2 separate regions of the Homo sapiens genome follow, and region 1 is linked to region 2. A link means that fine-mapping ties the variant in region 2 to the expression of a gene that starts in the linked region. Tissue or cell type: whole blood. Region 2 holds a variant in brackets; the other region holds the start of a gene. All regions are shown on one strand. Distances are between the middles of the regions.

Region 1 (8,000 bases), 110 kb before region 2:
TTTCCTGTGCGAGAGGCCAGCTAGGGGAGAGGCCGGAGGGGTGGGGGCAGGCAGGAAGGGGCTTTGTGGGGAGCATCCAGGCGCCCAGCCCATTGGAAAAAATCTTTCCACTCCCTGCTCCCCTTCCCTAGCCCCTTCACTTGTGCTCATGCGTGCAGACACACATACAGATGTGCCAGATGCAACACGCAGACACCACACCCGTATGGCAACAGGGGCAGGTGAAGACCGGTGACAGATACTTACACACACACACACACACACACACAGAGGCACCTGCACACGCACACACACATGCACACACACACTCATGCACATGCACACACACATGTATATTTGCACACGCATACACATAGGCTCACCCTCATGCACACACATGCATGCAGCTCAATGGAGCAGGTCTCTTGACTGGGGTCTCCCAGCTCCCTGCTGTGGCCATGCTGAGCTCACCATCCAGGCTGGGTCTAAGTGCATTGGGGCTTGGGAGCTGTGCTGGAGCCCACCCAGCTGGGACTGGAGTGTCCTCAGGACCCCAGCCCAGTGCAGGCATCCAGTTGGGGGCCTCCAAGGCTGCTCTACAGGCCTGACCCACATGTCAAGTCACCCTGGCCTTGGGGCTGGCTGGGGACACAGAACCTGAGCCCAGGTGCTCCCTGACCGCCTTGGCCACAGATGAGGGTGCTAGACTGGTTTGTGCACGGGGGCAAGGTGGGGTGGGAAAGGCTGGTGACTGGGACAGGAGCCCCGTGGCCCAGCGGCTGGCTTCTGCATATGTGGCCTCAAGCCCAGCACCATGGCACCCCCTGGTGGACGGTACTGCAGCCCCAGCGCTGGTTCTTTCTGGGCCTCCAGCTCTGACCTGGACCCCTTGGCCTGGCCCTGTTGCCAACCTTTTCTTCCATCCAGGTGTCCCTTTGCAGGCCACACACCCTCTGGGGGGGGGGGCAGACTACCTGCCTTGTCATCTCCCCACTGGGGCCTCCCACCTGGCCCTGAAGCCAGATAGCACAGGCCGGGGTTGTCCCTGCCCATGCTCGTGTGCCCCGGAGCAGGAATCCTGGCTAGTGCTGGAGCTGCTGGGTCCTCCTCTGCCCACCATGGGCCCACCCAGGGCTGGTTGGCCCGGCAGCAGCTCCAGGAGGTGACTCTATTCCTATTCTTGGAGACATTTATAAACCAGGGTCATTAAACAAGCATTTGCTGAACTTGAAGGCTGAGCTGAAAACCCTGCCAGCCCTGGGGACCCAGGAGGCTCTGCCCTCAGGGACCCCCAGAGTGGTCCAGCTTCACAGGCTAAACAGGGAAGCAAAGCCCCCAGCACAAGCTCCTCATGGCTGGAAAGGGGAGACGGGAGGCTAGAGGGACAGGTGGGAGCCCGGGGCGCCAGGGAGGAGCTGCCCCAGCTGGGGTGAGAGAAGAGGGCTGTGGGCCTAGCAGGGGCAGGACAGGCGTGGGGAGGCTGCCGCCAGGTGGGGTCTGCGATGACCATCGAGTGGCAGGGACCAAGACAGAAGCCCATGGGGAGGAGTAGGAATGAGGGTGACAAGAGGCCACTGCTATGGGGTGGGGTGGAGGGGCCTATGGGACCTCGGGGCTGGGGAGACACCTCCGGCAGCTGGGAAGGAGAGTGTGCAGCTCCGGAGAGCCCAGGCTGGAGAGCTCAAGGGGCGTTTCCTGAGCCTGGCCCGGCCTCCTCCGAACAGGAAATGGGATGCTCCCAGTGCCCTCCCAGAGCTTGCTGGGCAATAGAACCAGACCCTCCCAGGGACTTTGGAAACAGCTCCCAGGGTCAGGAGGGCCGTCTCTCTCTTTCAGAGCTCCTATAGGAACCCTTGTTGGGCGTGTAGATGACAGGGTGAGGTAGGGCCTGGTGGAGGGGCCTTGGCTACCCAGGTAGGGGGTCTCGGCTGGCTAGCATCCCTGGGGCCTCTGTTTCTGCCTAGATACTCAGGTGTGGGGTTGACGTGGGGGTCTCGGCTGGCCAGCATCCCTGGGGCCTCTGGTTCTGCCTGGTCACTCAGGTGTGGGGGTGGCACACAGCCCTGCCAGCTCTTCACTCCTTTCTAATTCTTTTCTGGGGGCCTGGGCATCTGGGAACACAATGAACTCACCCCTGCCATGAGGCCCTGGGCCTCCCTCACGGTGGCTGCAGCGCTCAGCACGGCTCCCAGAGTCAGGAGGCCCACCAGGCTCAACCCCGCAGAGAAGGCTGGTTGGGAGGAGAGAGGAGGAGGGTTAGGGGTGCCCAGGACAGGTCCTGAGTGCACACAGCCTGGGTGTGAAATCTAACTTGGGAGTCAGGGGCCGTGAGGGACTCCTGGGGGGCTCTGAATGGGCCTGTCTCTCCATCAGACGGCCCTGAGGGAAGGAGGAGGGAGGTGGGACTCGTTCAGCCTGGGGGACTGCCCCTCCTTCCCTCTTTTCCTCCCTGCCCTCCATGCCTGTGGGGCTATCTTGGAAGCCACATGCTCCCTGCCATGCCCTAGTGACAAGTGGCCGGACTGGAGCTGTAATCTTATCAGTCTGGACCTGGACCTGGGCCCCAGGCATCCTCCTGCCATGTCCTAGTGACAAGTGGCCGGACTGGAGCTGTAATCTTATCAGTCCGGACCTGGACCTGGGCCCCAGGCGTCCTCCTCCAGGGAGGCCCTGGTCCTAGGACTTGGGGAAAAGCATTGGGTTCTAAGGCAGTATCCCTGACCTCCTGGGCCTCAGTTTCCCTACATCTGCCCACCGGGCTGCAGCCTTCCTGGGCCCCCTGAGCTCCTGCCTGAGAGTCCCCTGCAGATCTGGCTCTGACATCCCCTCATTAAAGGGGCCTTCCTCAGCCTTACCCCTGAGTGGCCCCAGCAGGCTCTGGCCCTCGCTCCCGCTCTCTGGATGTTGGATAAGTCGCTGCTGAGTCCCTGCAGGGAGGCGTCTGGCTAGAGCAGCCCCCACCCCCTCCCCACCCACATCCCAGGTCCTGAGTGGAACATCAGCCATGTGGAGCCCTCATGGACCTGCTGTGCCCAGCCCCAGGCCAGTCCCAGGCCTGCCTGGGACTGAGCCCTGACTGCACAGAGCCAGGTCCTGACCGCACAGAGCCACTTCCTGACCCTGCCCGACATATACCCACACTGTGCCCACGCTCCTGTGGGGCACGAGAACCAGGCAGGAACACTGGCTGTCACCCAGACCCGAGGCCCTGCCCAGGGGAGCTAGGACTCCAGGGCAGCCCCTCCCTGCCCCTGACCACCTCTGGCTCCTGCCTAGGGCCTGGCACCATTCTGGCTGTGAGGCGTCCAGCTGGGCTCGTGCCAGCCACCCTTGCACCCGAGGCCCCTCCCGATGCAGCCAGGCCTGGACCTCACTTACCCCATTGGTGCACAGCCTGGTACGGGTTCTTCTCCAGGGACGCTCGGCGGATGACAGCAAAGTGGGCCCCGAAGTAGGTAAGAGTCACCATGGTGGCCACAGAGAGGCCCAGCAGCTGTGGATAGGGCAGACTCAGAGTGTGGGGCATGGGACTGCTGCAGGAGCAGGGAGCTCGGCCCCAGCGGGCAGGGTTGGGGCTCTCTCCAGCTTCCCGGTCCCGTGAGAGACAGGCTCAGCTGCAGGGATTCCCGGTGTTTCCGTGGAGTGGTCTCAGGAGGCCTTCACTGCAGACGCCCCAGCACACTCACAGGCACCCCCACATGGTAGACGCATACACGCACAGCCCAGCTTCCCCAGACACCCAGGACCTCTGATCATTGTGTCTACGGAGTGGGAGTGAGCCCCACCCCTGTGCCAGCACCCTCCGGGGCAGGAAGGGGAGAAGATCCCTGGAGCCCGGCAGCCAGTGCCCCTCCACCCCAGCTCGCCCCAGGCCTCAGCCCCACTCAGGCCTCCTCCAGGCTCTGTGCTGCCCCTCAGGAGGAGAGACGGGGTTGCTCATGGTGGTCCCTGCCTGCCTGCGGCTGTCTGCAAGGGCAGGACACATGTCTGCAAGGGCAGGACAGGGACAGTAGGGCTGGTGTGTGTGTCAGGGGAGGGATAATCCCTGTGCTGAGGCCCTGCCACCCCTCACCCCTGCTCACCCCCACCCACCACCCACTCCTGCCCGACCTGCCTGTTACCAAGATAAAGAAGCAGGTGACCAGCATCTGGCATTTGGCAACCCTGACTCGACTCCAAGGCCCCATGACGGTTCCTCTCCTCTCCTCTCCTCCCCTCCCTTCCCCTCCCTGTGGTTTCCAGCTGGGCAGGGGCCTCAGACCGCAGCTCACTGCCCAGGAGGTAGGCTGCATCCGCCCCTCTGTCTGTCTGTCAACATCGCCCTAGGACCGAGCTGCTGGGTGCCCCGGAAGAAGGGCAGGCAGGAAGGGGAGGGGCAGTGAGGTTGGCTCCCCCCACCACCTCACCCTGGTGCCCCCAGCCCAGCCCAAGACACCAGGGCATTTGCTGACATCTGAGGCCCTTCCCAGGAAGACATGGCCTCGTTCTTGGTGTGGCCACTGAGGACGGCGCTGAGAGGGGGAAAGTCATGGGCAGGACCTGGTGTGGGATGTGGAGGAGACGGCGCCCGGGGAGGAGGAGGTGAGCTCCCCGTCCTGGGAGTGAGCAAGTGTGGACTGGGCCTTGGGGGCGTAATCCTTGGAGGAATTTGGATGGGGTCTCCTTGGAACATCATTATTGAGGTGTTCTTAGGAAACACCCTTTGAAATGTCCTGTGACAGCTTAAGTTTTGAGAAGGTCGTTGGTTTTAATGCCTTCGTGGGCGGCACTCATGGATATTTTGTCGCAGAGCCTTCTTGGGGCCACAGGGGTGGGCTGGGGCCTCGCTCACACTCACGTGGGGCCTCCAGGGGGAGGCTTTGTAAACCTCGAATTTGCAATTACACCGAGCCGTGTAATTACGTATGGGTGGGGGCAGCGCTGCGGCCCCAGTACAGGCAGGGTTTCCGTGGGCCTCTGGGGCAGGGTGGGCCTGAAGAGGGTGAAAATGTTCCAGGTGAATCCATCATTCAGGGACCACTCCGGGCCCTCCCAGGAGTGCTAACAGGCGGCTCTGCTCGCCCCTCGGTGCTGGAATTGCTCCTCCTGCATTTGGTCAGGACCTCATCAAGGGGGAGGGGGCCCCAAGACCTGCAGGCATGGCAACCCCAGCGTGGCTGTGGGAAGAGGGCCCAGCTGCCGCCCGCTCAGGAACGCTGCTGGAGGAACTGCTGAGGCCACCGCCTCCCTCCCTCTGCGGAGGGAGAACCAGGAGAACCAGGAGGGACAACCAGGACCCCCGTCCAGCCCAGCACCCCCAGGCAGCACCCTCTGCAGCTCTGGCCCCCAGGAATTCCCACCCTGAGTCTGTGGGGGCTTGTGGAGACCTCAGATGCCTGGCACCCACAGTGTCACTTCAGCTGGGGGCCTAGGTGTGGCTCAGACTGGGGCGCAGGTATGAATGTAGGGGTGGCAACAAGAGTGAAGGTACCAGGTCTAGGGGCAGGAGGCCCCCGGGCTGTGCAAGTGGGCAGCCCGTCCTCTCCAGGGAAGATGAGCTGCTCTTGGCTATGTCTGGTTCGCCCCTAGAATTGTCTCTCTCCAACCTTGACCTCCCTGGAGCTGGTGAGGCGGGCCTGGAGCACCACCCGCTTCTGGGACACCTCTTCATCAGGTCTGAAGAATTTCGGAGCAGGGCGGGCCTGGGTTCTTGACCTGTCCTGATGGCCTCCTTCTCACACCAGCGCTGTGCCCAGGTGGCCTCACTTGTCATCTCAAAGTGGCGTCGAACCCCCTGACAGGTGGACGGGAACCCCCGGCTGGCCCTCCAGAGACCAGGTCTGACCACAGCCCCCCTCACTGTGCCCCACCAGCGGGGGCAGGGAGCCGGTGGAACCCCCACGCCCTTTGCTGAGCCACACCCTCCCACCCCAACATTCCCTCTGCAAGAGGAAGTGGCTTGTTGAGGGGAAGCCACTGTGCAGGCTGCTGCCCACCCCACACCCTCCTGCCCACCCCGCACACCCCTGCCCACCCCGCACACCGCTGCCCACCCCACACATCCCTGCCCACCCCACACACCCCTACCCAACCTTACACACCCCTGCCCACCCCACACACCCCTGCCCACCCTCACACACCCCTGCCCACCCCACACGCCCCTGCCCAACCTCACACACCCCTGCCCACCCCACATGCCCCTGCCCACCCCACACACCCCTGCCCACCCCACACACCCCTGCCCACCCTCACAAACCCCTGCCCACCCCACACACCCCTGCCCACCTGCTCTAGAGGTGGTGCCGGCCGCTGGGAGCCTGGAAGACCCCTCGAGCAGCGGGTTCAGCCCCAAGGAGCTGGCCCAGGAGGACAGCTGCCCCCACCCCTACCCCACCAAGGAGCCTGTCCTAAGGGCTGGGCCCCACTGCAAGCTGGCCTAAGGGCCCCTGGCTTTATTTCCAGGGAAGAGATTGGGCGTGGATGCATGTGCAGGCATGGATGCGTGTGCAGGCGTGGATGCGTGTGCAGACGTGGATGTGTGTGCATGCATATGTGTTTACCCGCCAGGGACTTCCTTTTTCCTCTCTCCTTCCTGTGAATTCCTGGGTCCCAGGTGCGCCCGCTCACTCTACAATGTCCTTACCCACCAGGAGGCCCCTGGCTCAATGATGCCACCTGCAGCTGCCCAACCCTCCGCCCATGGTGCCCTTGTTCCACCTGCCACCGCTCATGAACCTGTGGATCACCCAGCTCTGCACTGGCTTGCCTGCTGCTGCTGTCTCAGTTTACCTGGGCAGTTGCCCCTGGCTATCCGGCTGGGATGGGACTTGGACTTAGAAGCAGGCCCCTCCTCTGGAAAGCTGTGTCCTCGGGCCAGGAGGTGGCAGCCTCTACCTTCCTGAGACAGGGACCCTTTTCTGTCCATCAGAGGTGAGCAGCCGGGCTCTGAGGCTGGAGCCTGGGGGCCCCTGTGCTGTCTGTGAGCGCGGCCCCTCCCACCGGGGAGGCACTCAAGAGCTTCCCACCTGCGTCACAGCGAGTGGGGCCTGGAGCTTGAAGAGACCTGTGGGGGCCACGCGGGCACCTGAATCTGGCTCATGTCTGTCCTTTGCCCTGATTCTGAAATCCACGTCCCAGGAGCTGCCTTTGCAGCCTCTCCTGAGCCCAGGGAGGAGGAGGGCAGCTCCCCTTCTGGATTACCCTAGGCCTGGGTCAGCTGGGTGGGCCCCAGGGGACCTTTGAACCCCTACTGCCTGGGCAGCCCCCTTCCCCTGGAGGCACCCTGGCCTGTCCCTTGAGAGCCAAGACCATACTCAAACTGGGTTCTGGGCTCTGGGCACTGCTCTGCTCCCAACCAAGGGAGTTTCTGGGGCATGGCTGCCCGGGCCTTCCCTCTCAGTGCCGTGGGCTGCTGCCTCCGCTGGCCAACTCCAGTGGGCACTGAGGGGCACCCTGCTTCCCCCCCCAAGGAGCCTAGGCTCTGCCCTCAGTGAGGGCAGAGGGGACCCAGGGATGGCTGCCCCTTCATAGACACAGCTGTCTCCCAGGGGAGTCTAAAGGGACCCCACACCTGCGTCACAGATACCAGGGACAGACTGTAGGGGAGGCGTCTCTATCCACATCCACGCTGTGCCACCCACTAGTATGTGGGGCCGGGCACCACCAAGCCTGCTGTCCTGCCTGGGCCACCCCAGCCTGGGCTGAGACTCGGCACCCCGTGGGGGTGGAGGAGTGGGGCAGAGGCAGGAGATGCCTGGGGTAAGAGCCAGATGCCTTCAGAGTGACCCCCCGGGCCTGGGCAGGACTGGGGGCAGGGGAAGGTCCCGCTGGCAGAAAAATGCACATCGGACCCTCCCCCTAATGGTCCCCACACTCCCTGTGCAGACAAGGCAGGCTGCAGGGCAGAAGCTTCCTGCCCCATTCCTGGTGGTCAGCGTGCTTTATTTAGCCCTTGATGAAGAGACTGTTTCATGACCAGCTGGGGCAGTGAGCTCCTGACACCTTTAAAGGTGCAGTGTTGCCTCTCTCAGGAACCTAGAAGT
Region 2 (8,340 bases):
GCAGCGAGGTCCTGAGTGGGATGGCACAGGGCACGTGGGGTGTGGGTGATGGAGGACGTTGAGCTGGGTGGGGAGGGGTGGGGCATGTGTGCGGCCTGGCCATGTGGATCCTCCCAGGGGAGCTGAAGCCCAGGGGCCAAGATGCCCCGGCAGTTGGTGCCTGGTTAGGGAGCTGGGGTTGCGGACCGGCCCCCGTTTGTCACTTGCTGGCCTCTCCCCTGCTACCCTGCAGGCTGGGCTGTGGTGCCACACGGTGGTCTCTTTCTGGGCTGGGGTGTGATTCTTTCCTTTCTCCTGTGGTGTAAGAGTGCACAGCTGTGCAGGAGGCCGCCGAGGGCGTGTGTGTGACTGTGTGTGCTGCGCGTAGGGCCGTGTGTGCTGGCATCTGCGCACGCGTGTTTGCAGGGCCCGCAAGTGTGTGTGTGCATGTGTGGTGTGTGGCATGCGACGTGCCTGTAGAGAAAGTGTGTCTGGGGGCCCCACGTCCTCAGGCCTGGCGCCCATTGACCCCCGTTAAGCCCAAGCCCCATGGCTAGATTGTAGGCGGGACTGAGTTGCTTCGGAGACCTCTGCACTCGACTGTGGGAGTCTTATGGGGGCCTCCTGGGACGTGAGCAACCCCTGCCCTGCCTGGCAGTGTCAGCACCTCGGGCGGCCCACGCCTGGCCCCGCCACCCTTCCCCTGCCCCACTCCTGTGGCAGTCACGGTTGAGCCGCACCTCCTGCGGTCCTGTCCCTCCCTCGGGGTCCTGGGGACCAGCCTGGTTCCCTGAGAGCAATCTGATGGAGACCCCCTGAGTCCCACCCCAGCTCCCCTTTCCTGACCCCTTCCCAGCCCCTCTCCTCCTTGAGGAACCAGCACCCTCCTCCTGCAGCCCGGCCACCTGGACATGGGACGAGGGCCCCACCGTGTGGCCACCTGGACACCCTGCAGGGCGGCTCCTCGGCCTGACTTCTGCCTTCAGCACCCAGGGCTCCTCCTCCTCTCCGACTGTACATGTGAGATGGGAGACAGAGACACGGGGACGGGGACACAGAGACAGGGAGACAGAGATGCAGAGAGATGGAGGCGGGGAGACAGAGACGCAGAGAGACAGAGACAGAGAGACAGGGAGACAGAGACACAGAGAGACAGAGATGAGGAGACAGAGGCGCAGAGACAGGGACACAGAGATGGGGAGACAGAGATGCAGAGAGACAGAAGAGAGATGGAGGTGGGGAGACAGAGATGCAGAGATGGAGACAGAGACAGGGAGACAGAGACACAGAGAGACAAAGACAGGGAGACAGAGACACAGAGAGACAGAGAGATGGAGAAGGGGAGACAGAGACATAGAGATGAAGACAGAGATGAGGAGACAGAGACACAGAGACAAGGACACAGAGATGGGGAGACAGAGATGCAGAGAGACAGAAGAGAGATGGAGGCGGGGAGACAGAGACACAGAGATGGAGACAGAGAGACAGAAACAGAGAGACAGGGAGACAGAGACACAGAGAGACAGAGGGATGGAGACGGGGAGACAGAGACGCGGAGACGAAGACAGAGATGAGGAGACAGAGACGCAGGGAGACAGAAGAGAGATGGAGGCGGGGAGACAGAGATGCAGAGATGGAGACAGAGACGGGGAGACAGAGACACAGGGAGACAAAGACAGAGAGACAGGGAGACAGAGGGAAGGAGACGGGGAGACAGAGGCACAGAGATGAAGACAGAGACAAGCAGACGGAGATGCAGAGACAGGGACACAGACACGGGGAGATAGACAGACAGAAACAGAGAGACGGGGGAACAGAGACGCAGAGACAGGGAGACACAGATGGGGAGACAGAGATGCAGAAATGGAGAAAGAGATGGAGATACAAAGACAGAATTAGAGAGAGACAGAGATGGGAAGAGAAACAGAGACAGAGACAGAAGCAGAGAAATAGAGACGCAAAGATAGAGACAGATGGGGAAGAGACAGATAGAGATGGAGACAGACAGACAGAGACACAGATAGAGATAGACAGAGATGGGGAGAGAGGCAGGTAGAGACAGAGGCAAACAGAGAAACAGAGACTGATGAGGCCACACACCCATCCTTCTGTTCACCTCAAACCCTCTACCCCTCTCCCTGCTACAGATGGAGACCCCCATGACCTGTGTGGTCCAGAACCCAGGTCTTCACCTCCCCCCAGTGTTCCTGGGCCCACCGGTTTCTCGAGGATAATAGTGAGCATGGCGGTGGCTGGAGCCCAGAGCCAGCTGGGCCACAGCACAGCCCAGGGACGGCCCACCCTCTACCAGGCCAGATTCAGCCCCCTGATGCCAAGACCCCAGATCCAGCCCAGGCCCAAGCTGACCCCTGCCACATCTGCCCCTGTGAGTGGTGCCCACGAGATCTGATGCCCTGACTCACAGGCAGGGGTGGGCACCGGCCCCCCATCTTGGCAGGCCAGGACGCCCTCCTCCCAAGATGCCTCTTCCTCAAGGAGGTGGAAGCAGCCTGGCTCCCCTAGTCTGAAGGCCTGGGCCCCGCTGCCACTCACTGTCCACAGGCTTCCGTTTTCCCACCTGTGGAATGGGGGTGATGGAAATACAGCCCCAGGGCGTCGTGGTGCTGCACAAATTTGCGAGGCCACCAGTGCCCTGCAAAGCTGGGGGGTGCCCCATTGCGAATACCTCAGCGCAACCCTCCCCGGGGGCGGGAAGCGGGGAGCAGCCTTGCTCAGGGCTGGGGTCTGAACTTGGAGCCGCGTGGCCCCCCAGAACAAGCCAGGGCCTGACTGCATGAGTGCTCACTGCATGGCCGGTTTGCTAAGGGTGGGCTGGCCAATTCAGAAGGGAGGAAAGAGCCCTTGGTGGGAGTCAGTGAGGGGCAGAGGTCCTCTCAGGCCTCCAGAGACCTTTCGAGAAGCCCCCTGCTCCTACCTGGGTGTCTGGGAGCTGTGTGGAAGTGTCCCTAGAAAATTCTACCCCTGACTGACCATGTCAGGGACTTGGGGAGCCCAGAGGCATCTGGGAAATTGGGGCCCATGGGCACCCACCTTCAGTGCACCCGATGCCAGCTGGCCCGGGGGCCCCTGAGGTGCCCACAAATGTCCCCACAGACTGCCCTGTCAGGTTTGCCTGCCAGGCCCCTCCCCGGGCAGGGAGGGGGCTTTGTGGACCCCCAGCCTCTTTCCGGCACAGGCGGCCGGGAGCGAGGTTATGCCGCAGATGGCCGCAAGGGGGTGCCAGCCTCAGGGAACACCAGGGAAGGGGCTGGGCCTCAGTCTGCAAGGACAGAGATGGCCCAGCATGCCTGCCACCTGCCACCCACCAAGAAGTGTGCACCCCAGGCAGCAAGAGAGAGGATGACAGCTGCAGAGAAGAGGAGCGGTGGCCAGCGGAGCTTAGCTGGGGCATGGGCTTGAGTGTGGCTGCAGCCATCCCCATCCACGGAGCTAGAGGGTGTGGACAAGTGGGAGTGGGGCAGGCGCCGGAGCCCCTGGGAGCAAGCATGCTGGAGGGTCCCTGGGGTGAGCTCAGGGTGCAGGGGCCAGGGAAGCTGCAGGACCCAGGACCCCACCCCATCCATATCCCAGATCAACATGATCCAGGGAGAAACATACTTGCAACTTCTCAGCCCACAGATGCACGCAGTCACATACAAACGCACACACACTCAGCCCATCTGCAGCAAACTCACGTCCATGCCCTGCAGAAGCACCCGTGCACACCATGGAGACCCTTGTGCCCAGGAAGGGCGCACAGCCTGCTCAGGTTTGTCCCTGTCCCTGCAGGCAGGTCCCAGATCCAGCTGGGCGGCAGGACCAGGACCCAACGCCTCCCCATCTGCTGTCCCCTCCCTCCCTGTCCCCGCTTGCAGCCACCATCACCGCTCTCAGCAGGCTAAGCTGGCCTTCACAGGTGGCCTGGTCTTCCATTGACCCTCGGCATGCACACACGGGTGCACACAGGGCCAGGTTCACACACTCTGACTCTCACATGTGTGCACACAGGGCCGGGCTCACACACTCTGACTCTCACATGTGTGCACACAGGGCCGGGCTCACACACTCTGACTCTCACATGTGTGCACACAGGGCCGGGCTCACACACTCTGACTCTCACATGTGTGCACACAGGGCCAGGTTCACACACTCTGACTCTCACATGTGTGCACACAGGGCCGGGCTCACACACTCTGACTCTCACATGTGTGTGCACACAGGGCCGGGCTCACACGCTCTGACTCTCCCATGTGTGCGCACAAATCGCAGCTGTTTCAACACCAGCACTACTCTGATAAGTCCCCGGGCACAGGCCCCAGCTCCCCACCCCCCGGGTTTGGAGTCTGGGGTCTTGAGGGAGAAGAACGTGGGGCCGAGGGTACAGAGGGCTAGGCCTCGAGTATGGGGTTTCAGGTGGGGTGTCCCTGTGGGTGGATTCCCAGGGGCCTGCCCTCCATGGGGTTCATAGCAGCCCCCAGCGAGGGTGGACCGGACAGTAAACAGGAGCTTCCCTGCAGGCCTGTAGCTGAGGCCCTTCCAAGAACAAGGGTGGGGCTGGGCCCCTGCTGGGCACTGTGCCGAGCTCCCGCCCCGTGCTCCACCCTGTACTCCCTGCTCCAGGCCGGCCCGATGGTGCCTCCATTCCTGCCCCTGCTTTTCCCCTCCCTGTGTCCACTTGGGCCCCTGCTGCCCTCATGGACGGTCTCTCCTTAATTGACCCCCAGCCCGCATCCTGACAGAGCTGTGCCTTCCTCGGTCTCCCCGCTGCTGAGGACAGCACACGGCACACCCTGCCCCTGCCTGGAGCCTCTGCCTACCTCCCAGTGGAGCGGAGCAATGGTGTCACCTGTCACAGTGACACAGACCAGGGCCACTGTGTCGCAGAGCAGAGCAGCTCAGCGGTGCCCGCAGGCAAGGTCAGGATGCACATCCTGGGAGAGAACATCTTGTGCCACAGCCAGCAGGACCGTCTGGGGCTGGTGCACCCACCAGGCCCTGTGACGCCACTGTATCTGCCTGAGCCATCATTGCACCCTGTCACTCCGCTGATTCCCACCGTAGCCCACGGGGTTGGTATAAGGACACATGCC[A/G]CCCAGGTGGGGACACTGAGGCCCACCGGAGAGTGGCCAAATGAGGCCTCGAGCCTGGGCCTCCTCTTTTTTTTGAGGAGACGGAGTCTCACTCTGTGGCCCAGGCTGGAGTGCGGTGGCACAATCTCGGCTCACTGCAAACTCTGACTCCCTGGTTCAAGCTATTCTCCTGCCTCAGCCTCCTGAGTGGCCGGGATTACAGGCATGCGCCACCAAGCTGGGCCTCGTTTTTACACAGCAACCTCCCCAGGGCCAACCCTGTTCTGGCCTCTGAGCTGCCCCCAGGCAGCCTCTCTCCTGTTTACCTAGACACTGTCAGACCCTGCACCAGTGCCTGATGCCCAGGACAACACTGGCCCCTCAGTGGGCAGGGCTGTAGCCAGCCTTACCCCTGGAAACAGGGGAGAAAGGGAGGGAGGGGGGCCCACATGCAGTGGTCGGCCGCTGTGCACCCCCCTGCAGAGTCAGCTCAAGACACCGGGCTCTGCCTTCTGGGGTTCCCAAGGCTGCTCCCCTGAAGAAGACTGCTCAGTCCCAGCTGCCCCAGACCAGGCCCTTGGTGGGGGGTCCCTGAGCCTCCACTCCCTCCGGGAATGGCTGATCCTCCTTGGAGCCGAGTTTTTGTGCTGTGGGGAGAGCACCCAACCATGGGGGGCACCCTGGTAGCTCACGACATGGACCCCTGCCCACGGGCATGCCCTCGGCCAGCCTGGAGACAGCTGCTCTATTGACTGCCGGGCCAGGAGTGTCCCAGGTTAAGCCAACAAGCCCCCGCTTTCTGAGAGAAAAATCACCTCCTTTGGGTGTGGAATATGGGGGGGCGGGGAGCTGGGAGGTCGGGAGCCCTGGCTGGACCACAGGGCCTATGGCTGGGGACCTCTCGCTGCCGAGGTCACAGTGAACTGAGACCCCCTCGGGTCTCAGCCTGGAGGGGGTGACCCAGGAGGGTGCATTTCTGCTTCCCCCCTGAGAAGTCACACCACACCTAGCAGGGGCCCCTCCAGGGTGTACCCCAGGGGTCTAGGGGATGTTAATGATTGGCCGTCTCGGTTCACAAAGATAGTCATCACCAGCACCATGGAGTGGCCACCGCCCAGCTCTGTCAAACCTGGACTTAGCCTCATGTGCACCTTGATTTAAAGAACAAGAAACCAGCCCTGCCCACGCCCCTGGCTCACTGTGCTTCCCTCCCTCCTTCCCTCCTTCCCCAGACATAGCCACCACTTTGAATCTCGTGTCCCATGGGGTGTCCACACAGGGCACCTGATTTATCCAGGCTCGGGGAGGAGGGGTCACAGATTGTTCCCCAGGGGACTTTACCTAGTCCGTGTGTTTGCTTTAGGAGTTCTGAGGCCATTTGGTTTCTTTATGCATTTCTGTATCTTTTGCATTTTTCTAGTGAGCGTGGGGTTACTCTTTTAATCGTAAATATATATATACCTATTTTTTCAGTTAAAAAACTGTGGTTTCAGGCCAGGTGTGGTGGCTCAAGCCTGTAATCCCAATGCTTTGGGTGGTCAAGGCAGGGGCATCGCTTAAGCCCAGGAGTTTGAGACTAGCCTGGGCAACACAGTGAGACCCCGTCTCTACAAAAAATTGTTTTCAAATTCGCAGGGCATGGTGGCGTGTACCTGTAGTCCCAGCTACTCAGGAGGCTGAGGTCGGAGGATTGATTGAGGCCATGGAGATTGCAGTGAGCCATGATCCTGCCACTGCACTCCAGCCTGGGTGACAGAGAGAGACCTGTCTCAAAACGAAAACAAAAATCTGTGCTTCCTCAATAACAAATTGAAGCCACCAACACCCTCGTCCACCGAAAGGTTAGCATGTGCCTGGTGACAAAGTCAACAGACAAAGGGGACTGGGGAACAGTTCTGTTCCTCTTCCTCAGAGTCCTAGGCCCCAGGCCCCTCCCTGAGACAGCCTCAGGGCCTCCTCCTTCCCCTCCCTCATCCTCCTCCTTCCCTCTCTCTCCTTCCTCCTTTGCTTTCTCCCTCTGCAATCTCAGCCACCTGCATCCGCTTCCTCCACCCCGACCTTCCCGCCAGGCAGGTGCCCTGGGCTTGCTCAGCATGGGCAGCCCCCGGCTCTGCCCCCTGCACACTGGGAGGCTGCTCCACTCTCAGGGGTCTCTGGCTTTCCGTGTCCCTGCAATTAGCCTCCGCGTGCGTGCAAGAAGTCAACACAATTTGGCTCCACGTGGCCCCGGTGCCGATTGTGGACAGATAAAAGACAAACTAACGTCCTGCCCTGAGGATTAAGATGCAGCTGTTTCCCTGGATACCGGATCAGGCGTAATTAGACAAAGGGAGTGCTTTCCAAACCTACTCAGCCGAAGGCCCAGGGGCAGGCAGCCCTCACCCCCAGGCAGCTGGCACGGGCTCGGGCCCTTCCTTCCTCCTTGTTAAAAGCGGATTGATACAGACGCCATGGAAAAGGTTTCTGACACGCAGCGGGATGATGGCAGCAAGGCCACCTGCGGTGACAGCGAAACAAGATGCTCAGAGCCCCATTAGCAGGGCGGCCACGTGTGCGTTCGCCTTCGCCTCTGCCCCTGTTTTCTCCAGTTTTGTTCACTTTGCTGTATCATGGACGATAACACATCTTAGCAAGAAATCAATAAACGGTCCCGAGGCTTTTAATGGAGAAGAAATAAATAGCAACCGCGCTTGGCAGTCTGGAGGAACCAGCGCTTTCTGCCTGGACCCTGAGCCTCAGGCTTCACCGCCAACACGGCCATCCCTGTGGGGCGGGAGCAGCCTGGAACGGGAAGGGTCCACCCTTCTTTCCCGGCTTCCTGCAGAGGGCGGGGAGAGGCTCTGTCACCGTGCCCCTCGGAAGCCGGCCTGGGCTGTGTAACTGGGGACTTGTGGACAACAAGCCAGAGGGGGTCCTGCCAGGCTCTGGATGCCCACTCTGCCCATGAGGAGGGCACAGGCAGCGCAGTGCCGTGGCAGGCAGGCTGCCGACCTTATGCCCCAGGGGCGGCCTTAGTGCTGTGTAGACCCAGAGGGGACACGCCCCAGGGCTCCCTGAGGTGCTGCCTCAGTGGCTGTGCACTCCCAGCACCCGGGGGGTGTGCCCACCAGCTGCCCGGCCCCTGAGTGGGCCTGTGTCCAGTGCCCCCCTGGCCTCCCGGGAGGAGCTGCTTGCTCTGCCCCAGGGTTGCTGAGAGACAGCCTTGCCACTGACCCGGCCGGTCTCTGCCTCCAGCCCAGGCCTCTGTGCACGCTGACTGCGGTGGAAACTCCAGGCCTGGCAAAGAAAAACA

Evidence for each region. PIP is the estimated chance that this variant, and not a neighbour inherited with it, causes the effect.
Region 1: it holds the start of C11orf21, and the variant in region 2 is fine-mapped to the expression of C11orf21 in whole blood (INTERVAL, PIP 0.90).

The regions. Positions count from the first base shown.
Region 1 is chr11:2,298,316-2,306,315 of GRCh38, reverse strand. It overlaps C11orf21 (chromosome 11 open reading frame 21), which reads left to right and starts at 4,398. Exons shown (of 4, transcript NM_001329958.2): 1 at 4,398-4,560; 2 at 5,703-5,796; 3 at 6,609-6,888. The coding sequence starts at 4,508. The coding sequence ends at 6,860. It overlaps TSPAN32 (tetraspanin 32), which reads right to left and starts at 4,303. Exons shown (of 10, transcript NM_139022.3): 1 at 4,101-4,303; 2 at 3,358-3,472; 3 at 2,112-2,209. The coding sequence starts at 4,166. RefSeq lists an enhancer at 1-399 and a silencer at 6,763-7,057.
Region 2 is chr11:2,189,967-2,198,306 of GRCh38, reverse strand. No RefSeq gene overlaps it. Among named protein-coding and RNA genes, the nearest start is that of MIR4686, 21 kb to the right of the region's middle. The variant A/G (reference allele first, on the strand shown) is at 5,070.